7 linked regions of the Homo sapiens genome follow. The protein of the gene in region 1 purifies or fractionates together with the protein of each later gene. This does not show direct contact. Each region holds a gene or a part of one and is shown in the gene's direction. Other genes may lie near its edges. The genes, in order: SLC9A5, MYO10, RELT, GMCL1, IQGAP3, MYO1D and TMEM131L.

Region 1 (3,500 bases):
GGATGAAAGTATAAAGGAAGGGACATTTCTAGAAGGGGAAAAAGCAGTAAAGGCCTAGGTTACCATAGTGTGACAGGAGCACTAAGAAACAGATGACTTTGACTGCAGGGGAGGGTTTGTAGCCCTGGAGATTGGAAATTCTAGAAGTCTTGCATATTTCTCCTCCCTTGGTCCCAGTCTTAGAAGGTTGGCCAGGCGCGGTGGCTCACACCTGTAATCCCAGCACTTTGGGAGGCCAAGGTGGGCGGATCATGAGGTCAGGAGTTCAAGACCAGCCTGGCCAACATAGTGAAACCCTGTCTCTACTAAGAATATAAAAAAAATTATCTGGGCATGGTGGCGCGTGTCTGTAGTCCCCGTACTCAGGAGGCTGAGGCAGGAGAATCACTTGAACCCGGGAGGTGAAGGTTGCAGTGAGCTGAGATTGTGCTACTGCACTCCAGCTTGGGCAACAGAGTGAGACTTCATCTCAAAAAAAAAAAAACAAAACTGGGAGTTCATAGGCCTGTGTGTGGGAGGATATTCCATAAACTGATCCATCCTGCACTCTTTTTGCATTGCAGTGTTTCACCTGTCTCGGAAAGTAACATCTCTGGTCCCTGAGAGCTGCCTGCTGATTTTGCTGGGCCTGGTGCTAGGGGGAATTGTTTTGGCTGTGGCCAAGAAAGCTGAGTACCAGCTGGAGCCAGGCACCTTCTTCCTCTTCCTGCTGCCTCCTATTGTGTTGGACTCAGGCTATTTCATGCCTAGCAGGCTGTTCTTTGACAACTTGGGTGCCATCCTCACCTATGCCGTGGTAGGCACACTCTGGAATGCCTTCACAACAGGCGCTGCCCTCTGGGGCTTGCAGCAGGCTGGACTTGTAGGTGAGTGACCCTAAGACCTGGGCTTTGCCAGACCCATCACCCCTCTCCCTTCTCCTCAAGCTCTGGAGGCCCATGCTGGTGTGAGCCATGCCCTGAAAGCTCCATCCTAGGTCCCTCCCTCTGGAGTGCAAGGCAGTGCTCCCGCTGGGGTTCAGGCCTCATTGAGGTCTCTGCCAGTCTGGGCTTCTGCAGCATAACAGCTGAGCAGGAGTCTGGCTCCCAGCTGTATGTGGGCTGCCAAGGCTGGGGAGCCTGTGTTACCATTCTGTTGCCTCCTGCCCTCTGTTACCACATTGCCATTTGCCAGCCCGTCTCCCCTGAGGCATAGCTGTGCATCATTTCTGCAAGGGCCTGCTGTCCTGGCTCTCCCCAGGCCAGGTCTGGGTGGTTTTCTGTTTTTATTATTATTTTTTTTTCTTAACTATATGTTGTCTATAAGAAATTCATTATTTTAAACATTTATTTTTTTAAATAAATAAATAGATATTTAAAAAATAAATATTATAAATCCATCAAATGCTGGCACTACACTGGGTTTTCTCTCCTTACTTATCCCACTGACTCTTCATAGCAACCCTTTTGTGTAGTTTGTCACATTTACACATGAGGAAATAGAACCCCTTGCATTTGTTTGCTATCAGGTCCAAGGTTAGCAGAAGAGGTCCGTGTTTGTTGTTGTTGTTGTTGCTTGTTTTTTTGAGATGGAGTCTCACTCTTGTCCAGGCTAGAGTGCAATGGCATGATCTTGGCTTACTGCAACCTCCACCTCCTGGGTTCAAGCAATTCTCCTGTCTTAGCCTCCTGAGTAGCTGGGATTACAAGCACATGTCACTATGCCCAGCTAATTTTTGTATTTTTAGTAGAGATGGGGTTTCGCCATGTTGGCCAGGCTGGTCTTGAACTGCTGAGCTCAGGTGATCTGCCCACCTCAACCTGTCAAAGTGCTAGGATTATAGGCATGAGCCACCACGCCTGGCCCCAGGTCTGTTTTACTGAGGCTCTTTGCCTTTAGGTTGCCCTCTCTTGCTACCTTCTTTATTTCCTAACCCAAGAAATTCATTCAACCCTGAAGGTTAATGATTCACACTTTTTCCAAGGTATTACAAGAAAACGTTTACAATTGCTACCTGGGACTCTAACCTGGTTTCCCTATTGAGGTAGTGAACTATTTGGGGCAGGAAGGGAAGGGAGGACATCAGATCATAATAACAGTAATAGATAATAATATCTTTTGGGTGCTTACTATATGTTAGGCATTGGCTAAGGAACTTTTTGAGGTAGATATTGTTATTAGTCTCAATTTAGACATGGGGAAACTGGGGCTCATAGAAATTATATGACATATTCAAGTCCGATCTGTGTTGCTTTTCTTACTATATTCAGTTCTCCACACCTGCTGAGAATTGTGTCACATCCCTTTGGCCGGGAACCACAGGTGTGGGAGAAAGCACTCTCTTTTGTTATTCCCCCTAATAAAAATAGTTAGCAGCCAATTTCCATTTGCTGGTAGTTATTATTACTGTTGCTACAGTGCTTTTTCCCTATTTTATTTTATTTATTATTATTTTTTGAGACTGAGTCTCACTGTGTCACCCAGGCTGGAGTGCAGTGGCACAATCTCGGCTCACTGCGGCCTCCGCCTCCCTGGTTCAAGTGATTCTCCTGCCTCAGCCTCCCAAGTAGCTGGGATTACAGGCCTGCACCACTGCGCCTGGCTACTTTTTGTATTTTTAGTAGAGACAGGGTTTCACCATGTTGGCCAGGCTGGTCTTGAACTCCTGACCTCAGGTGATCCAGCCCACCTCGGCCTCCCAAAGTGCTGGGATTACAGGCATGAGTCACTGTACCTGGGCTTTTTCCCTATTCCAAATGGCTGGGTTGAGTTTTGAAACAATCTTGTGAGGCAGGCAGATGAGGAGGCATGGCTAAGGTGAGCCACATGACAGTGACGGACCAGCATCACACAGTTGGTAAGTGGCAAAGCCAGACCTTAGGCATAGGTAGCTTGACTGAAGTCTCCTGATCTGCAGGCTAATGCTGTCTTTGCCATCCCAAGTCCTCTTTGGGCTTCCTTGCTGTTATCAGCAGGGGTGGGGCCTGGGCTTGTTCCAGGGCGTGCTCCAGGAGACTGGGTCGTCTTCAATGACTGGCCTGTCCTACACATGTCCCTTAATAGCCCCTAGGGTGCAGGCTGGCTTACTGGACTTCCTGCTGTTTGGGAGCCTCATCTCGGCGGTGGACCCCGTGGCCGTGCTAGCTGTCTTTGAGGAGGTGCACGTCAATGAGACTCTCTTTATCATCGTCTTTGGCGAGTCCCTGCTCAACGATGCTGTCACCGTGGTGAGCGTGCTCAGCTGACTGCCATTCCCTGACCCCAGGCTGCATGCTCTGACCAACTAGGGGTCTGCGCAGACTCAGTCCCTTCCCTTGGGTCCCCTGGGGCAGAAATATGCTGTCTGCTTTCACCCTGCTCTCCCAGCAGTCTGTCTCCCAGCAGTCCCAGTTGCTGCCTTCCCGCCTCACTGCTGACTCTCCTCTTCTCGCTCAGGTGCTGTACAAGGTCTGCAACTCCTTTGTGGAGATGGGCTCTGCCAATGTGCAGGCCACTGACTACCTGAAGGGAGTCGGTCAGTA
Region 2 (3,500 bases), on another chromosome or scaffold:
ACCGTGTTGGCCAGGCTGGTCTCGAACTTCTGACCTCAGGTGATCCACCCGCCTCGGCCTCCCAAAGTGCTGGGATTACAGGCGTTAGCCACGGCGCCCGGCCAAGAATTTTCATATGATAGGATGAGGCATGACTCTTTCAAGTATTAACAACGCTGCAGAGGTGAGTTGGCAGCACAGTTGCTCCCAGTGAGACATTGGCTCTTTAGGGGTTTTTTGTATTTAAATTGAACTGCACAAAATGAAGCGGGCCCTTGCCAAGAAGTCACTGGTGCTTGCTCCATTCACCAGTGGGGGACCATTCACTGCTTTGGTCTACAGAACCTTGGCACAGCCTAGTTCCTCCCAGCAGCCAGCCCCCATCAGTCTAAAAATTAACAGTTAGTGTTTGCCTCCTAGGATACGGGAACAGTTTCCAGGAAGCGAGATGGAAAAATACGCTCTCTTCACTTACGAATCTCTTAAGAAAACCAAATGCCGAGAGTTTGTGCCTTCCCGAGATGAAATAGAAGCTCTGATCCACAGGCAGGAAATGACATCCACGGTCTATTGCCATGGCGGCGGCTCCTGCAAGATCACCATCAACTCCCACACCACCGCTGGGGAGGTGAGGAGAGGCAGCTGCTGCTTGTTCTGTTAGATGCCTTTGCTGCAGATACACCTGCGTCAGGAACATTGTGCAGCATTAGAGTGGCTGTCCTGCACAGTTGCAGTTTGCTTAGTACAGCTCTCAATACTAAGGAAATGCATGTAACCCAGAAGCAACCACACGAATATAGAGATAAAAATATATATATTGAGTGGAAACACAGAGATAAAGTACCTGAGACATAATCTTGCTAATCTGAGAAGCAGCTGAGTGTCTAGCAGAGCTGCAGACCTGGCTCAGGTCCAGCCACTTTGATGAGGGTTTATTGCAGTGCTTCTGCAACAAAGTGTTTGTTTGCACGTGACTAGCTAGATGAATATCAGATGAACACATTTTCTTTTTAAAATTTGAACTTACTATTATAAAACCAGTTGGCCAAAAGGGTGGTAATCCAATAACCACCACCCCGACCCCCACCCCCCAAGGCTTCTTATGGAAAAAAAAAAAACGTCATCTGGAGTCTCTGTTGTTCCTTGGAGTTCATAAATTTATCAGCCAAAAGACAGGACTGAAGCTTTTCACCCGCTTTTCCTGTTAATATAGGTTTGCAAGAAATCAGCCCAGCATCTGCCTCTACCGATGGGCAAAATACCCTGAGTTATTTTCAGCAAGAAAGAGATAAACCTAATCTCAAGAGAACAAAGGGAAAATAGTACTTTTGAAATTCTGGGATGACCACACGGGTAACATTTTTAGGAGGCTGGAGACGCCCTTGTGCCAGCAGCTCCCTCTGGGATCAGGTGATGGCACGTTCTGGGAACACGTGTTGGGGCCGCAGCCTGTGGAACTGAAGTCCCCCTGGTGTGTCTTCCAGGTGGTGGAGAAGCTGATCCGAGGCCTGGCCATGGAGGACAGCAGGAACATGTTTGCTTTGTTTGAATACAACGGCCACGTCGACAAAGCCATTGAAAGTCGAACCGTCGTAGCTGATGTCTTAGCCAAGTTTGAAAAGTAGGTTCCTTTTCCCTACTGTGTCAGAAGAGCAAATAAGAGAAATTGCAGAGCAGGGTTCAGGGTTTGAGCTTCCCATTCCATTTGTGGCTTCACGCTGTATTGGAGTTAGTTTTATTTTACCTGTGTTGATGCCTGTTTAACTTTGCATATCCGCTATTTTTCTCGATTCCTAGATAAAGCTACGGTCTTACGTGATGTAACTTGTCAGTGGTTTTTTACCCCATTCCTTTTCTCAGTTCCATGTTGGACCCGTCTGGGTATTTCTTGATTTTTTAGGTTTCCAGTTGTCATTAGCTTTGAAATTGGGCTGATTGACTGAAGCCAGCTTATAAACTCTTTAAACTATGTGTTATGTCTACAATATAAAATGGACCTACTTTTTTTTTTTTTTGAGATGGAGTCTTGCTCTGTTGCCCAGGCTGAAGTGCAGTGGCGCAACCTTGGCTCACTGCAACTTCTGCCTTCTGGGTTCAAGCAGTTCTCCTGCCTCAGACTCCCGAGTAGCTGGGATTACAGGCATGTACTACCACGCCCAGCTAATTTTTGTATTTTTAGTACAGATGGGGTTTGGCCATGTTGGTCAGGCTAGTCCCAAACTCCTGACCTCAGGTGATCCGCCCACCTGGGCCTCCCAAAGTGCTGGGATTACAGGCGTGAGCCACTGCACCTGGCCTGTAGACCTACGCTATTTGATCTGTGACTTCATATCCTCGAAGTAGCGCGAAGGTATTCCTGCTTAGTATAAACACAGCCCTCATACAAGAGTATTCACATCAATTTTTATAAATGTTATCATAATGTATCTGAGGCTTGGTAAAGGTAATAAAGAAACAGGCTTTTGTTTCTTTTCTTCCCGTGGACTCAGCATAATGCTTAGCTGGTACTAATTCGAATGCGGCTCTCTGAAAACACTTGTTAGCTGGTTAAACTAGGGGCTGCCTGTTTGTTTTCTTAAAGCAAAATCAGGATGAAAGTACGTTTTTTCACTCTGTTTATTCCTCTATCCCCATCTCTATCCACTGTTTTCTGGGCCCGGACAGAATGTCTGTGTCCTTAGAATACACCATGTAAAGTCAGGTCCCTGCGGGTCACTGAAGGCCCTTCTCGTTCATATTCTGAGCCTCTCTTGACTCCTCTCTGTAGGCTGGCTGCCACATCCGAGGTTGGGGACCTGCCATGGAAATTCTACTTCAAACTTTACTGCTTCCTGGACACAGACAACGTGCCAAAAGACAGTGTGGAGTTTGCATTTATGTTTGAACAGGTAAAAGGAATAGTTAGAAACAGATTTCTTTGCCGGCAAGCAAGGGTGAAACCTGTTAATACTTAGCCTTGTAAGTTAACTGGTACTTAGAAATGAGGCACACCTGTGGATTTCCCAGCAAAGACAAGACCAGCTGCTCTTTCATTCGTTTGTAGAATGAAACCTGCTACACATTTTATTTGAACCTCCGTTCCAGGGACTGTTCTAGTTGACAGGAGAGAGAGCACAAGGAATAAAATATGTGACGTGTGTTAGATGGTATCTGTGCTAGGGAGAAAATTAAATTTAAAGCAGTGAGCCAGGGGTGAGGGTACAGTTTTAGCCAGGGCAGTCAGGGAAGGTGAGTTTGAGAGAAACCCTCATGAAGTGAGGGAGCAAGCGACGTGGGCATCCCATGGCATGGCAGTGCGTTGACCGGAAAGCTGTTGACTGTCTCCTTTCAGGCCCACGAAGCGGTTATCCATGGCCACCATCCAGCCCCGGAAGAAAACCTCCAGGTTCTTGCTGCCCTGCGACTCCAGTATCTGCAGGGGGATTATACTCTGCACGCTGCCATCCCACCTCTCGAAGAGGTTTATTCCCTGCAGAGACTCAAGGCCCGCATCAGCCAGTCAACCAAAACCTTCACCCCTT
Region 3 (2,288 bases), on another chromosome or scaffold:
GGAGCAGGCTGAGCCCCGCCCCTGGCCCTGCTGCCATGTTGCTCCCCTGAAGGATGCCCCGACCCCCGTGCCTGCCCTGGCTGGATCCTAGGAGCCCACGGGATTCTCTGTATCATCAGAGGCTGGGCTTGGCAGAGGGGAGGGGCCTGTGCCCGTCACCCCTGGCCCCATTCCTTGGTAATTAGCCACACCCTTGCCTCTGTACAGGGCCCTAGAGCAGATGTGCGTCCCCCTCCTCTTCCAGCAGGTCTATAAAGGGAAGGGGTAGCAGAAAGTCCTGGGCTAGGAGAGTGAGTCCCTGGGTTCTAATCTTGGGCACATCTGTGGCCATCGCTGGGTCCATTTTTCTGACTGTGAAGTAAGGAGAGACGTCTCAGTACCCAGGGCCTCTTCAGCTCTTTGTAGGTTCTGGGCTGGGTTGTGGGGGACTGGGGAGCTGGGCTCTACCATCCCTCCCATTAGTAGCTTTATCCAGCCCCGTTTTTGCTGCTTCCAGGGCCTCTGCCTTCAAGGCCCCCATGGGGCTGTCCATCCATGGCTCTGCCTACGGAAGGGGCTTAATGCATGTGCCTGCCCCTCCCCCAGCTGTTTTTAATGAAACTGAAAAAATAGACTTGATCCCGGCAGGACTGTGATACAGAGCCCTAGCCTGCCCAGCCAGCCCCAAGATCTCAGGAGCTTTAGGGAGAAGACTTGGTGGGGCTGGAGCACACCTTGGGCCTCAGTGGTTTCTGTGTCCCTGTGGTGCCAGTGCTTCTGGGCAGTGCAGGCGGCTGCCAGGCCCAGCCCTGACTTCCACTCTGGCTCAGCAACCTGGTTATTTATGTGGGGCCGTGCAGGCATGGGCCCACTGCCTGTCCATCCTGTTTCTCTTATTTATTGAAACTCACCATTGCCCTATCCTTGTGTCTCCACCCCCTTCCATGTGTTGAATAATAAAAGGTGGGAAAGTGCTGTCACGAGGAGCTCCTTTTCTCTGTGCCCTTCCCAGCTTATCCGCCTGTTCCACTTGTACCTGTCCAGCCCTGCCCTGTGTTGGGCACCGTGACAGGCTGCCCTCCCCTCACAGTTCCTGCACCTCAGCAGCCAGGGAAGCAGGGCCCAGAGGAGACCCATCAACTCATCTGGTTCTCACCAAAGCCCCTAGCTAGAGGCAGGGCTGTCCCACAGAAATAGTGTGAGCCACATATGTGACTTTAAATTTTCTGACAGTCACATTTCAAAAAGTAAAAAGAAGCAGGTGAACTTAATTTTTTTTTAACCCAGTCTATCCAAAATATTTTCATTTCAATATAAAATCAGTATAAAAAGTGTGAATGAGCTGTTTTTGCTTTTGCTTTGAAATCTGGAGTGTATCTTACACATCTTGATTGGAACTCAAATATTTCAAGGGCTCCATAGCCACGTGGCCAGCAGCTACCACACTGGTCAGCGCAGCACCTGAGGAAATGCACTGTGTGGAGCCCGGGAGGTAATTGGGGGTGAGGAAGATGTGCGGGCCAGGGAATGTGTTCCACAGAGAGGGACAGCATGTGCAAAGGCTGAGCACCAACACATAGTGGTCACCTGGGCCTTATGCCCAGGGAGCCTCCAAAGCATTCAGCTCCTGCTTGGCCAGTGTGGAGAGGAAAGGAGCCACAGGAGCGGGTGCTACACCCGGCAAGACAGAGCGTCTCCATCTAAAATTCCTAGGGCAAGCTTCCAACCCGGCCCAAGGGCCGCATGTGGCCCAGGATATGGCTTTGAATGGGGCCTAACACAAATTCATAAACTTTCTTAAAACATTGAGATGTTTTTGCTTTTTTCTTTTCTTTTTAGTTCTTCAGCTATTGTTAGTGTTAATATGCGGCCCAAGAAAATTCTTCCAATGTGGCCCAGAGAAACCAAAAGATTGGACACCCCTGTGCTAGGGTTTGGTAATGGGAAATGGGTCGGGGGCTTAGGGCCAGCTGGGTGGGGCAACAGGAGCAGTCCTGGGGGCACCTGTGACACAGCCATGGAGGATGTCCCATGCCATCCAGATGTGAAGGCCCAGAGCTCTCAGGAGACAGACCTGGAGACAAGAAGACCTACAGGCACTCAGGTGGGTGTTTAGGCCAGGACTGGGCTGGGAGGAAATGTCCTGGGGACGATGCCTGGGCTGCTCCAGGGCACCACAGAGAAGGCACTGCTAGGGAGGCAGGAAAGAAACCAGGGAGGGCAACGTCCGTGGCAGTGTCCTGGCAGCCAGGGGAGGGGTGGGCGCAGGGTGGGCTGCAAGGCCAGGTGCTGCTGGGGGGTGAGGAGGA
Region 4 (3,500 bases), on another chromosome or scaffold:
TAAACAGCATATAGTTGAGTCTTGCTTCTTTTGTCCAACAGGACAATCTAACCTTTCAATTAGTAGTTAGACCACTTATATTTAACGTAATTATTGAAATATATGTCACAGTGCATTTGAAGGAGAGAAATCACACAGCAATTTGAATACAGGAAATTTAATATAAACATTATTAACAAGGCACAGAGAATTAACTACTGAGGACAAAACGCTAAGGTAAAGAGATCCCTAGAAAATACATGTAGTAGTCAGTACTTCTAAGGCTGAGGCAGAATAGCCACAGAAGGAACAAATTTGGAATAGGTGCCCCCACCCCTTTCCCAAGCTAAGATTCAGATGATGTTGAAGGAGGTGTGGCTGTAGCCCACTGGATGGTGGAAAAGTTTGCTCAAGTGTGGTAAGCTGAGGCTGGCAAGTAGGACACTGCCTACTAGGATGCCAACAAAATTATTTGGAGGCCTTTTGGCCCAGAAGGCTAAAGATATTTACTATCTAGACCTTTACAGAAAAAGTGTACCAACTCCTAGACTACATGAGTGGACTGGAATGGAAAGTTTTTAAGGCAAACCTTTATCGGAAAATGCATATCAGAATTTAGTGTCTGTATATTACTGGAAGATGCTTGGATTATTCAGCCCAATACGGATGCAGGGTGTAAGAAAATACTAAGACGGGCCAGGCGTGGTGGCTCACGCCTGTAATCCCAGCACTTTGGGAAGCCAAGGCAAGCAGATCACTTTAGGCCAGGAGTTTGAGACCAGCCTGACCAACACAGTGAAACCCCGCCTCTACCAAAAAATACAAAAATTAGCCAGGCTTGGTGGTGCACGCCTGTATTCCTAGCTACTTGGGAGGCTGAGGCAGGAGAATTACCTGAACTCAGGAGGCGGAGGTTGTAGTGAGCCAAGATTGCGCCACTGCGCTCCAGCCTGAGCAACAGAGTAAGACCCTGTCTCAAAAACTAAACAAATAAAAATTTAAAAGAGAAAGTATTAAGATGTTGAATTTTGTGTGTTGGCCCTAGTATATACTTCCTGAGGTTGTCTGGTGTGCTCTCCCACATCAACAGACCACTTTATGAGAAGTTTTAGCTTTTAGGCCCAACTTCCACCTCATACCTTTGTCAACTGCATGTTCTACTTTTACATTTACGAGACTGTTAAAACCCACACTGTTCTACAACCAGATCTTGAGTGTTTTGTCCGTAGCTTGTCTCTAAAAAATTGAAACGACATTACATAGTTATAACTAAGTAAATATTGTTTCAGAAGAGTTAAGTAGTATGCTAGGATTATAAATCATACTTGATGGGTCCAGTGTCACAACTGCTTGTCTGTTCAAAGGGAGAAATTTTTCTAACCTCACAGTCATATGGAATCTTTTCTTGTATTCCATCAAGTGCTTAAAGTCAGGCCCTGCTTTTGTTTTTATCTTATTTGGACAGTGCCTTTTTTTGTATTGCTTTTTTATTGTCCTAGAGTTTATAATGGCCTTTCCCCCACTCTTGTCAAAATAACAATATTCCTTCATCATGGCTTCGGGTTTTTCTGAAAAAACACAGAAAAGTCTTTTGAAACACACTTTCATGGAATCCTTCTCTAAAACCTAGACCTCTTCCATCCTCCTGTTCCAATCTGGATTTGTCTACTCTTATGCTGGGACTTACTTTCACCCCATCTCTAGGATTGAATCCACTATTTTGTGTAGCCTGCATTTCTTTCTCGCTTATTTTAGGAACTATTTAATACATCCTCAAGTATTTTCCAAGGAAGGGTGCAAAAGGGGGTAATTTGTGCGTATCTAAATATAAATTTAGTCTCTTTTACTTTATTCATCCTCTGACTGGGTATGGAAATCTAAAGTAACTTTCTTCATATCTTTGATGACGCTGCTTCATTGTCTTCAGGCCTACAGTCTTGATGAAAAATTTGATTCTGGTGTAATTCTCTTTTCAGGTGACCATTTTTGCTCTCTGGAACTTGTGGAACTTTTTCTTTGGTATTTTGGGATTTAATTAGAATGTGCTTAAGTGTGGGTCTTTTAATGGCCTTGGTACTTGTTGGATCCTTATAATCTGGAGACTCATATACTACCTTAGTTTTGGGAAATTTTTTTCCATTAATTTCTTCCATAATTTCCTTTCGCTTCTTATCTTTATTTTTTCTTTCTGGGATGCCTCTTAACTGGATTTTGGATTTCTTGGATTATGCCTGTCTCTTCTTTTTTCCTTTCTTTGTCTTTTTGCTTTATGTTCTGGGAAATTTCCTTTAACTTTTTCATCACTATCATTAGGTTGTTTGGCCCTAACTATGAGGTATTTCTTTTGGACCAGGGGTGAAAATTACTAAAATATGAAATGTGCTGTGATCCATGAAAGCTTGGGAACCTCTGCTCTACAAAGCATGCCCCACCTATAACCAACTTCGTAGTCTTCTTACTCAAAGAAGAGGTACCTTGGAAATAGATCTATTTACTCAATTAAAACACCATACATCAGTTATTCATTCTTAAATATAAGTGGACAAGCAAGGAAGGATCACCCAACATGAGGAAGAAAAACAAACAAACTATTCTTTGGTTTATTTGTTTTTTTAAATTTCAGTAATCATGTCTTTAGTCTCTAAAAGCTCTTTCTTGTTCTGAGTGATCCTTTATCATAGCAGTCTATGGGGTAAATATAATAATCTCAGATCTCTAGGTATACTGGTGAGAGGGTGTTTTTTTCCTCTCTTTTCCCTGAATTATATGTTTCCAGGGGTGGAGGGAGTCTCTCTGTCTCTCTGATATGCTCTTATTCTTCCTCATGGTGGGTGATCCTTCCTTGCTTGTCCACTTATATTTAAGAAGGAGTAACTGGTGTATGGTGTTTTAATTGAGGAAATAGATCTATTTCCAATGTACCTCTTCTTTGAGTAAGAAGACTACGAAGTTGGTTATAGGTGGGGCATGCTTTGTAGAGCAGAGGTTCCCAAGCTTTCATGGATCACAGCACATTTCATATTTTAGTAATTTTCACCCCTGGTCCAAAAGAAATACCTCATAGTTAGGGCCAAACAACCTAATGATAGCAGATTGCATGGTATCTGAAAGATGTTACTGTGTTTCCTTCGAATTTAAAATACTCCACATGCCTCTCTGAGTTGGCTGTGGTGCTCTAAGTTCAGATGGTATCCTGAACTGGTGAATTTCACACACGGTTTGGGAACCATGACTTAGGGTGAATGGATTGGGAGTGAACAGGCCACAGATTCTTTAAATTTCAGAATGAGGATTGCTTTGTCTGGGCACCAGCAGCTACACTACAGCCTTAGATCTTCCATTAGCTTTGTGCTATTTCTAGAAAAACCTTGGAATCTTTTTGCCTCAGTATCTGTACTCTCCTTATCTATACTCTGTGTTCATAGAGTGGAGAAGGCACTAGTTTCCCCATTTTCTGCCCCTCTTCTTACTTCTGCCTTTGTTTCCCTGAGACCTCATCCTTCTTTTCTCCCAAGGGTTCT
Region 5 (2,661 bases), on another chromosome or scaffold:
CCAGTGTTCAGGAAAGGAGTGAAGCAACGGTGTTTTTGGTTGTGGTTGTTGTTGTTGCTTTTTTGGGTTTTTGTTTGTTTGTTTTCTTGAGACGGAGCCTTACTCCGTCACCCAGGCTGGAGTGCAATGGCGCAATCTCAGCTCACTGCAACCTCTGCCTCCTGGGTTCAAGCGATTCTCCTGCCTCAGCTTCCTGAGTAGCTGGGATTACAGGCGTGCGCCACCACACCGGCTTTTTGTGTATTTTTAGTAGAGATGGGGTTTCACCATGTTGGTCAGGCTGGTCTTGAACTGCTGACCTTGTGATCCGCCCGCCTCAGCCTCCCAAAATGCTGGGATTTACAGGCATGAGTCACCATGCCCAGCCGAGCAGTAGTTTTTAATCCAAATCTTTTTGCTCTGATGTTTTACCTTTTGAGTAAGAAAAATGATTTTGGCCGGGTGCAGTGGCTCACGCCTGTAATCCCAGCACTTTGGGAGGCCGAGGCGGGCGGATCACGAGGTCAGCAGTTCAAGACCAGCCTGGCCAATATAGTGAAACCCTGTCTCTACTAAAAATACAAAAATTAGCCTGGCGTGGTGGCACCTGCCTGTAATCCCAGCTACTCAGGAGGCTGAAGCAGGAAAATCGCTTGAACCTGGGAGGCGGAGATTGCAGCGATCCGAGATCGCGCCACTGCACTGTAGCCTGGGAGACCGAGTGAGACTCCGTCTCAAAAAAATAAATAAATAAAATAAGAAAAACAATTTCAAGCCCTGGTTCTGCTTGAGTTGACATTTGATCAAGTCACTGTACCTCTCTTGCCTCAGTTTCCTCATTTGTGAAGTGGGATTTCAATGCCCTACTTCAGTGGCCAGTGCCACTGGTGACTGCAGAAGGCCCCATGATGTGAGTGTTTTGTACACCATCTGACTGGACCACATTCAGAAGCCCTTAAACTCCCCTCCCTGCCTCTTCCCTCCTAGGATCTCCTGCAGCTCCAGTATGAGGGTGTGGCTGTCATGAAACTCTTCAACAAGGCCAAAGTCAATGTCAACCTTCTCATCTTCCTCCTCAACAAGAAGTTTTTGCGGAAGTGACAGAGGCAAAGGGTGCTACCCAAGCCCCTCTTACCTCTCTGGATGCTTTCTTTAACACTAACTCACCACTGTGCTTCCCTGCAGACACCTAGAGCTCAGGACTGGGCAAGGCCCAGGGATTCTCACCCCTTCCCCAGCTGGGAGGAGCTTGCCTGCCTGGCCACAGACAGTGTATCTTCTAATTGGCTAAAGTGGGCCTTGCCCAGAGTCCAGCTGTGTGGCTTTTATCATGCATGACAAACCCCTGGCTTTCCTGCCAGATGGTAGGACATGGACCTTGACCTGGGAAAGCCATTACTCTTGTGTCTGCTACTGCCCTCCCACAGTCACCCCAATATTACAAGCACTGCCCCAGCGGCTTGATTTCCCCTCTGCCTTCCTTCTCTCTGCACTCCCACAAAGCCAGGGCCAGGCTCCCCATCCCTACCTCCCACTGCATCAGCAGTGGGTGTTCCTGCCCTTCCTGAGTCTAGGCAGCTCTGCTGCTGTGATCTGCACACCCTCCAACCTGGGCAGGGACTGGGGGGATGCAGTGTGTGTTAGTGCCCATGTGGCATTGTGGCACTGTTGCCCCCCATGGCGGCATGGGCAAGATGACCTTCCATTAGCTTCAAGTCTTGTTCTCTTGTCTGTGGTCTGTTTAATATGTGGGTCACTAGGGTATTTATTCTTTCTCCCATCCTTACACTCTGGATCATTGTGCAGACTTAATCAGGGTTTTAACGCTTTCATTTTTTTTTTTTTTTTTTTTTTTTTGAGCTCAAAGAGAGTTCTCATTTTCCCTATTCAAACTAATACCCATGCCGTGTTTTTTACCTTGGATTTAAAGTCACCTTAGGTTGGGGCAACAGATTCTCACTCATGTTTAAGATCTTGTTATTTCAGCTTCATAAGATCAAAGAGGAGTCTTTCCCTTTTCTCTTTTACCCTCAGGATTCTCATCCCTTACAGCTGACTCTTCCAGGCAATTTCCATAGATCTGCAGTCCTGCCTCTGCCACAGTCTCTCTGTTGTCCCCACATCTACCCAACTTCCTGTACTGTTGCCCTTCTGATGTTAATAAAAGCAGCTGTTACTCCCACATCTGTTGTTAACCCTTATTTCATTTTCTGTAGAGCCGGCCTTTAAGTTCTGGAACACAGCTCCCTGAGAGAACTGGGGAATCCTTCCTGCAGCCTCCCCCAGCCCTCTGCCTGCCTCCGGTGTGGTCCTACTCTGCCTGCCTGAGATCGTAAAAGCTTAATGAGATGTGGCATTTATTCTCTCTTCCTTCCCCCGGGGGACAGAGAGGAGGAAGGAATGCTTAGGTTTCTATTCTGTTTTTATCGGCCACTCTGAAGACTAAAGCTGAGAAGAGAAGCCACTCTAATTTCTACCCCACCCGTTTTACACACAGTTCCTGCAGGTTCTTTTCCTGAGCCTTGGGTGGTGATATCAAAGGTGCTTAAGCCATAACTCCTTAGGTATTGTAGATTCTACACTCTGATCAAAATCTCCTTTCTGAAGGGAAAGCTCCCTCCTTTCCTCCTTGCTTTCAGAAAGTAGGGAGGGAAGTCTGTTGGGGAGGGGACAGTAGAGACA
Region 6 (3,500 bases), on another chromosome or scaffold:
TTTTTTTCTTTCTTTTTTTTTTTTTTTAGCAGACAATCTTCTCAAAATACTGTACTTTAATAGAACTTAACTGTGTGTTGGGGCAGTGAGTTATAGATTAGAAGAAAGGCAGGAAACAGACACACACATACTCACCACACCACCCCTGTATTCTTTCTCTGTGGCTGTTTGGTCATTTGGAAAATTTGGTGGGACAAAGGGTGTCTCTTGCTTGCCAGGGAAAAAAACCCATAGATACCCTGGGTGGTCTTCAAGTAAATGTAAACCTGCCATTGGTTCAGGGCTCTAGTTAGAAATAGCTCTAGTTAGATTTATAGGAGAGGTGAATGGCACACTAAATCTTTTTGGCTTCCATGTGAAATTCTTTGGCAACCTCTTTTGAAGGCCTTTGGAAAAGGACAGTTTGCTCTCTGCCTGTTTTGTACATTGGCTTCATATTGGGACAAAAATGGGAATTTGGGTTTTGGAGCTGCCATTTGGAGTGAATCACCCTGCCGCCTGGTTTCCTTTCCTACTCCGTGACAGATTTCCGAGACTATTTTTATTCAGGGTCATTTCTTGACCCTGGAGACTTCTGCTGAATTTAGTTCCCAAATAGAGCCAGATGTGGGTGGAATCAAGCACTTAGAAGTTGCTACTGGTTCATTTCATTGCAGGTTCTGATGGGATCTACTTTTCTTTTTTCTTTTTTTTAGACGAGGTCTCACTCTGTCACCCAGGCTGGAGTGCAATGGCACAATCATGATTCACTGCAGCCTTGACTTCCCCAGCTCAAGCAACCCTCCTACTTCAGCCTCCTGAGTAGCTGGGACTACAGGCGCACACCACCAAGCCTGGCTAATTTTTTTTTTTTATTTGGGAACTACTTTTACATTAAAGAGATACACTTTGGCTTTTTGCTTAACTTTGAGACAAAAATGTTGAATCTGATATAGCTAGAAATGTGTTTATTTAGTGATCTCCATATTAGCTCTATGTGGAGAGCTGTTCGTTGACATTCTCACCTAAGTGTGAGTCAGCTAAGCAAAATGGACACTATCTCTAGGAGTGACCTCATTTAATGATAATTCTCTAGTACCCATTTGTGGTGCTGCCACTGGAACTGGTTTGGGTCATTGTATTATTGCCCAGCCACTGCTAAGTCGGGGAACTTTACTGTCAGCAGTGGCTCCAGCTCCGCTGGGTAGATTACCTGTTCATGAGCCTCACCGACATGGCCTATAAAAATGCCAACTATATTCATAATGGGGTCAGAGGGTAACAGCATTTTAAAATATGCATTGTATGTCTCTCCTTTATCATTTATTAGATGCCTTGATTTGGATGACAGTTTTATTTCCTGTAGGAAGCAGGCTTCTTTCAGTTCAACTGCAATGTAATTACTGGCTAGATCTCTTTTTTTTTTTGAGACAGGGCCTCGCTCTGTTGCCCAGGCTGGAGTGCGGTAGTGCGATCTTGGCTCACTGCATCCTCTGCATCCCAGGTTCAAGCGATTCTCATGCCTCAGCCTCCCTAGTGGCTGGGATTACAGGCACGTACCACCACTCCCAGCTAATTTTTTTTTTTTTTTGTATTTTTAGTAGAGATGGGGTTTTGCTATGTTGGTCAGGCTGGTCTCAAACTCCTGAGCTCAAGTGATCCGCCCGCCTCAGCCTCCCAAAGTTTTGAGATTACAGGCATGAGCCACCGAACCCAGCCAAGATCTCTTGAATAGAACAATGTTTTCCAAACTTTAGTTTTGAGCATTTGTGGGAAAAGAGAATCAAAAGTATGCTTCCAATAGGGAATCATGGAAAGAGCACAGGCTCTGAGACGTAAATGACCAAGTTCAAATCTCAGCTTCAGCTGAGCATACTTCTCTTACCATAGGCTTCCCTAAGCCTCATTTCCTTATATGTAAAATGATCGCCTTTTAGGGTTATTGAGATGAAATCACATGTTCAGCAAGTGCCTGGTATATAATTCTCACTCAACTAATGCTAACTCTTCCTGAATCCTTCCCGAATGGCCTCACCTCCCTACCCTGACCCCATAACTGCTAGAGAGCTAGATATTTTCATCTCTTCCTTGTCATTTCTTCCTCCCTCACTAAGACAAAGTTTTGTCTTTTTTGTTTGTTTTGATTTTGTTTGGGGGGCAAGGATGAAAGTTTGCAATGGCGCAAACTAGGGAATTCAGATTACCTAGCAGAGAGTGCAAGAACACGAAATAGACAAATCTGGACCTTAATCTTGTCTTTGTTCCTTTACTACCACCTGTGTGACTTTGGACAAGTGACTTAGCTTCTTTGAGCCTCAGTTTTTTCATCTATAAAGATGATGTGTTCTTGTGAAATTATAGCACATTTAAAATATGTGTCAAATACCTATGGTGGTGGCTGAAGCATAGTAGATACTCAGTGGGTACCCCTCTGTCTCTGCTCCATTCCCTGGTCCAGCCCTGTGAACCAAAAATGCCCTTGCTATTCCCAATTCACTCTGTAACTATCACCCTATGCATTCTCATAATCACATTCCCTCCAGGTATCACTATTTAATTTCTAGAAATCGTTTTAGACTCTTTGGAAAATGAAATATATTCATATTTAAGAGATTTCTAAACTATTTTATTCTGCATGTCACTGTTCTCAGCCTCCGTGAAGGTTTGTAACATCTAGGCACTATTGCTAGGTAATAGACTTTAAGTCTAGAGTTTTTTTTTTGTTTTTTTTTTAAATCTATAACCAATTTCCTCATTATCTATAGACCCTATATGTTTTTCATATAATCTCCTGGTATTAAAGCTAGCAACTACTTGAATTCTTTTTTTTTTTTTTTTTTTTTTTTTGAGACGGAGTCTTGCTCTGTCGCCCAGGCTGGAGTGCAGTGGCATGATCTCTCGGCTCACTGCAACCTCCATCTCCTGGGTTCAAGCAGTTCTCCTACCTCAGCCTCCTGAGTAGCTGGGATTACAGGCGCCTGCCACCATGCCCAGCTGATTTTTGCATTTTTAGTAGCGACAGGGTTTCACCATGTTGGCCAGGCTGGTCTCGAACTCCTGACCTCAGGTGATCTGCCCGCTTTGTCCTCCCAAAGTGCTGGGATTACAGGCGTGGGTCACTGTACCCGGCCAACTACTTGAATTCTTACAGTGTGCTTAGTGCTGGGTTGGGTACTTTGGTGGGGGTTACTTTTAATAAAGTTACTCTTTGAGGGATAGCTTAATTGGGAGTAAGAGATACCTTAATAAATGGATCAATATAAAGTGAAATATGATTGAGCTCAAATGAATAGCACAGACAATTCTTTTTTTTTTTTTTTTTGAGACAGTCTCACACTATCACCTGGGCTGAAGTGCAGTGGCGTGATCTCAGCTGACTGCAACTTCCGCCTCCTGGGTTCAAGCAATTCTCCTGCCTCAGCCTCCCGAGTAGCTGGGATTACAGGCACCTGCCACCACATCCAGCTCATTTTTGTATTTTTAGTAGAGATGGGATTTCACCATGTTGGCCAGGCTGGTCT
Region 7 (3,500 bases), on another chromosome or scaffold:
TTCTAATTTAAAAGAAAGTTGGAGTCCTCTGAGGGGAATGTGGTCTAGGCAGCTGCACACATGCATTCTTGGTGCATTTAGTCCAACCCGTTTGTACCGTTTCCCCTGGCAGTGGTGCACACGCCTGAAGTGGACTTATGTCTGCAGGGTGGACACTGTGCCCTGTCTCCTCCACCTGGCGTGTGAGTATGCCCCCTGGTAATGCAGTTCACCCAGATCTTCAAATCAAACCATGGCATACCTTGTCTGTGGATGTATTATGATGGGGTGATTGGGTGTCTTATTCTGTTTCTCTCCCAGACACTCTCTGGGGTCTAGAATACAAAACATTTGTGAAAAGGTGAATTATGGAGTGAGTCCTGTTGGACATTTCCCCTGTTACGTGAGTCTTTTAGGCTTGAGCACAGTCTTTGACATAGGATGACTTTGCACACACTTGAAATTAGAGTTGAGGGAATCCTCCCTCCAGAAGTGCTTCTTCTGTGATCGCTTGTGCCCACAAGAGATATGTGCCTGCAAGATGCAATGCCCGTGGCAGTGTGGTAGATGGATGGGAGGGACCTTCTATATCTTAATACTTTAAAGCAGTTGAAATATAAAGGCATGGATGAGAAATGTAGTGTCAGAGTAGGTCAGAGGATTTGAATTCTTCTTCAGGATCCTCCTGTCTAGTACTTGACATTCAATGCCAATAGCTGAGCCAAGATGAGCAGGTAATAACACTTTAATAAGCGTGAGTAAATTTAATATGGGAGTCTGGAAACATAGAGTTTGCCTGTATCATTGTAGATGGTAAACCTGCCCAGAATCTTTCCTTCCTGTACAGATTACTAGTATGCTTATAATGTTTTAAATGGCAACAAATCTTTCACTGCCAGAATTTAAAAATACTGTTTGGCTGGATCAGCAGCATGTTAAGTGGTACCAGAGTGATTGTTGATCAGATCAAGTAAGAGCTGAGGAAAGAACTTTTGCTTTCCACCATGTTCAGACCAGCAAATTCAGAGGTGCTAATTCACAGTCCTCTACGTGTCTGCAGAAGTTATATGTTAGCAGGAGATTCCTCCCAGGGAAGTTTGTACATGGACATGCATTTTGTTCTGACTGTTTTATGTTCACAGCACTGTCCTGGGAAAATATCCGAGATGTTAAAAAGTGAATAAATTGCCTGCTATCCATGTACAATTTAAAATTGTTCAAGAATTTTAAATATTAAAAATAAGAAAGGACTGAAAAATCTAGGGAAAGATAATTATAGTCTGAAGGGAGGGTTTGGAGTTTTTTTAGTAATATTAAGGGTTTGGGGCTCTGTTGAATTTCAGAGGAAAGCATTGCAATAACTTGGCAAATGATAAACGCGTATAATTGACAGGTAAGTCACAAGTGCAAAGAATGCTTGAGAATGAGAAAAGCATATATATAAGAACCTTTAAGTTTTTACTTCCAGCTTTGAGCATTAGTTCTTTGCTAGCTTTGAAAAGTATTTTACTTTGTGAAATGTGTGCTGTTTCCATTGTAAGATCTTTTCTAGAATCTGAAGAAAACAGCTTGGTCTTTGAGCTGGACTCAACCTGCCTGATAGCTGAGAATCCTAAGTGCCAGTCACGTTGTCTCCTGTGTGACTGGCAGTTAGGATTCCAGCAGAATGGGAACTCACTCAGTGTGTTTGCCACATTTTAGCCATTTCTCCCAAAGTATACAAATGGTCTGTAGAAACCATTCTAGTCATAAGATTGCCTTTAAAGGGAAAAAGGGAAAGGTGGGGACAGTCCCGCCTCTTAAGAATACCTTAAGTGATTTTCCTAACTATCAGAACTCCTGGAGGCACCTGAATAATCTGCCTTCTCCTATTCTGAGGCTTCCCCCCACCCCCGGGTGTAGCTTATTGTGTGAGAAGAAAATGTTCTAGGGTATGTATGAATGGCTTTGACTACATACTTGCCATCAAGAAACATAATATTTTGTAAGTAATAGAAAATGTGTCATATTTGGGAGGCCGTGATGGGCAGATCACTTGAGCCCAGGAGTTCCAGGCCAGCCTGGGCAACCTGGTGAAACTCCATCTCTACCCAAAGAAGTATATGTATATGTATAGTAGCCAAATGTAGCCAGGCATGGTGGTACATGAGCATGGGCCTGTGGTCCCAGCTACTTGGGAGGCTGAGGTGGGAGAATCACTTGAACCCAGGAGGTCAAGGCTGCAGTGAGCTGTGATTGTGCCACCGCACTCCAGCCTGGGCAATGAGTGAGACCCTGTCTCAAAAATAAAAGCAAAAACAAAAAATGAAAAAAAAAATGTGTCCCTTTTCTACTCCATTTCCCCTGCCTGCTTCGGAGAGGCCTGTAGTAAATAATTAATTAAAATTCTCAATAGAAATAAAGTCTGCTGACATTCTTTAGGGCTCTGTTTTTCTACACTTGTTTTTTGGCATCAACTTGTCAAACAACTATCAAACAGTTAAACTTGTCAAACATTCGTTATACGTTCCAGAACCTCTTGGTCATCTGACAAGAGTGGGGCTTTATGTGTAATGTAAATGATCTTGTGAATATAGCTCTTTTTAAATGTTTGTAACCATTTTCACTGTCTGATCAAAATAATGTAGATTAGAGTTATGGCTAAAGACAAGCTATGGTTGGCCGCAGCACTACCAAGGAGAAATAGTGAGCAAATTATTTCACGGGTTTCTACCTGTAATAATGTAAAGGTATAATTAAATTTGATAATAGCTCAAGCCTTGAGCTTAACAGTACCTGAAAGTTTTCACTGAATTACATTCCTCACCTTTCTGAAATTATTGGTATTTGCAGAAATTCCAAAAATGTTCCTATTTACTTACAGATACTATTAACTTGAAATGAAGATTTAATGGTTTATTCAAAACAGACCACGTGATTGTGATTAGATTTGAGACAGTACAACTTTAAGCAGGTTACTGAGGAGATCACTTGTGTCTTGTTCTTCCATTTGTTTCTGTTTTTTAACCACTTTTAAAAGGAATTACTGACCTATAAAGCTGTACATACTTAATGTATGCATCTTGATGAGTTTGGGAATAAGTGTACATCGTGAAACCATTACCACCGTGAAGGGCATTAACATGTGCACCTCCCAACGTCTTCTCCTGCCCCCTTTATTATTATTAGTGTTCTTTCCATTTGTTTTTGATTTTTAACTGTGGTACACTCTTACTCAGTGAGGTCATGGGGAAGTTGCACACTTAATAGGATGACTTGGTGTATTAGGCTGTTTTTCACTGCCATAAAGAAATACCAGAGACTGGATAATTTATAAAGAGGTTTAATTGGCTCACAGTTCTGTGGGCTGTACAGGCTTCTGCTTCTGGGGAGACCTTAGGAAACACAGTTATGGTGGAGGGGTAAAGGGGAAGCAAGCACGTCTTGCATGGTGGGAGCAGGAGGAAGAGAGAGTGAAGGGGGAAGTGCTACACACTTTTAAACAACTAAATCTCGTGAGAACTCTCTCACTATCATGAGAA

What was found.
Region 2: the proteins of SLC9A5 (region 1) and MYO10 purify together in Homo sapiens (affinity purification with mass spectrometry; one large-scale study listed by BioGRID and IntAct). This does not show direct contact.
Region 3: the proteins of SLC9A5 (region 1) and RELT purify together in Homo sapiens (affinity purification with mass spectrometry; one large-scale study listed by BioGRID and IntAct). This does not show direct contact.
Region 4: the proteins of SLC9A5 (region 1) and GMCL1 purify together in Homo sapiens (affinity purification with mass spectrometry; one large-scale study listed by BioGRID and IntAct). This does not show direct contact.
Region 5: the proteins of SLC9A5 (region 1) and IQGAP3 purify together in Homo sapiens (affinity purification with mass spectrometry; one large-scale study listed by BioGRID and IntAct). This does not show direct contact.
Region 6: the proteins of SLC9A5 (region 1) and MYO1D purify together in Homo sapiens (affinity purification with mass spectrometry; one large-scale study listed by BioGRID and IntAct). This does not show direct contact.
Region 7: the proteins of SLC9A5 (region 1) and TMEM131L purify together in Homo sapiens (affinity purification with mass spectrometry; one large-scale study listed by BioGRID and IntAct). This does not show direct contact.

Annotation. Positions count from the first base shown.
Region 1 is NC_000016.10:67,251,979-67,255,478, forward strand, and holds part of SLC9A5 (sodium/hydrogen exchanger 5 isoform 1 precursor), read left to right. Parts: intron 1-563; coding exon 564-866; intron 867-3,042; coding exon 3,043-3,206; intron 3,207-3,414; coding exon 3,415-3,493; intron 3,494-3,500. UniProt on the Homo sapiens protein: Plasma membrane Na(+)/H(+) antiporter. Mediates the electroneutral exchange of intracellular H(+) ions for extracellular Na(+) in 1:1 stoichiometry, thus regulating intracellular pH homeostasis, in particular in neural tissues.
Region 2 is NC_000005.10:16,670,789-16,674,288, reverse strand, and holds part of MYO10 (unconventional myosin-X), read left to right. Parts: intron 1-399; coding exon 400-607; intron 608-1,463; coding exon 1,464-1,600; intron 1,601-2,746; coding exon 2,747-2,867; intron 2,868-3,310; coding exon 3,311-3,500. UniProt on the Homo sapiens protein: Myosins are actin-based motor molecules with ATPase activity. Unconventional myosins serve in intracellular movements. MYO10 binds to actin filaments and actin bundles and functions as a plus end-directed motor.
Region 3 is NC_000011.10:73,395,687-73,397,974, forward strand, and holds the end of RELT (tumor necrosis factor receptor superfamily member 19L isoform 1 precursor), read left to right. Parts: 3' UTR 1-1,788; downstream 1,789-2,288. UniProt on the Homo sapiens protein: May play a role in apoptosis. Induces activation of MAPK14/p38 and MAPK8/JNK MAPK cascades, when overexpressed. Involved in dental enamel formation.
Region 4 is NC_000002.12:69,832,660-69,836,159, forward strand, and holds part of GMCL1 (germ cell-less protein-like 1), read left to right. Parts: intron 1-3,500. UniProt on the Homo sapiens protein: Possible function in spermatogenesis. Enhances the degradation of MDM2 and increases the amount of p53 probably by modulating the nucleocytoplasmic transport.
Region 5 is NC_000001.11:156,524,905-156,527,565, reverse strand, and holds the end of IQGAP3 (ras GTPase-activating-like protein IQGAP3), read left to right. Parts: intron 1-966; coding exon 967-1,080; 3' UTR 1,081-2,161; downstream 2,162-2,661.
Region 6 is NC_000017.11:32,867,125-32,870,624, reverse strand, and holds part of MYO1D (unconventional myosin-Id), read left to right. Parts: intron 1-3,500. UniProt on the Homo sapiens protein: Unconventional myosin that functions as actin-based motor protein with ATPase activity. Plays a role in endosomal protein trafficking, and especially in the transfer of cargo proteins from early to recycling endosomes.
Region 7 is NC_000004.12:153,605,860-153,609,359, forward strand, and holds part of TMEM131L (transmembrane protein 131-like isoform 1 precursor), read left to right. Parts: intron 1-3,500.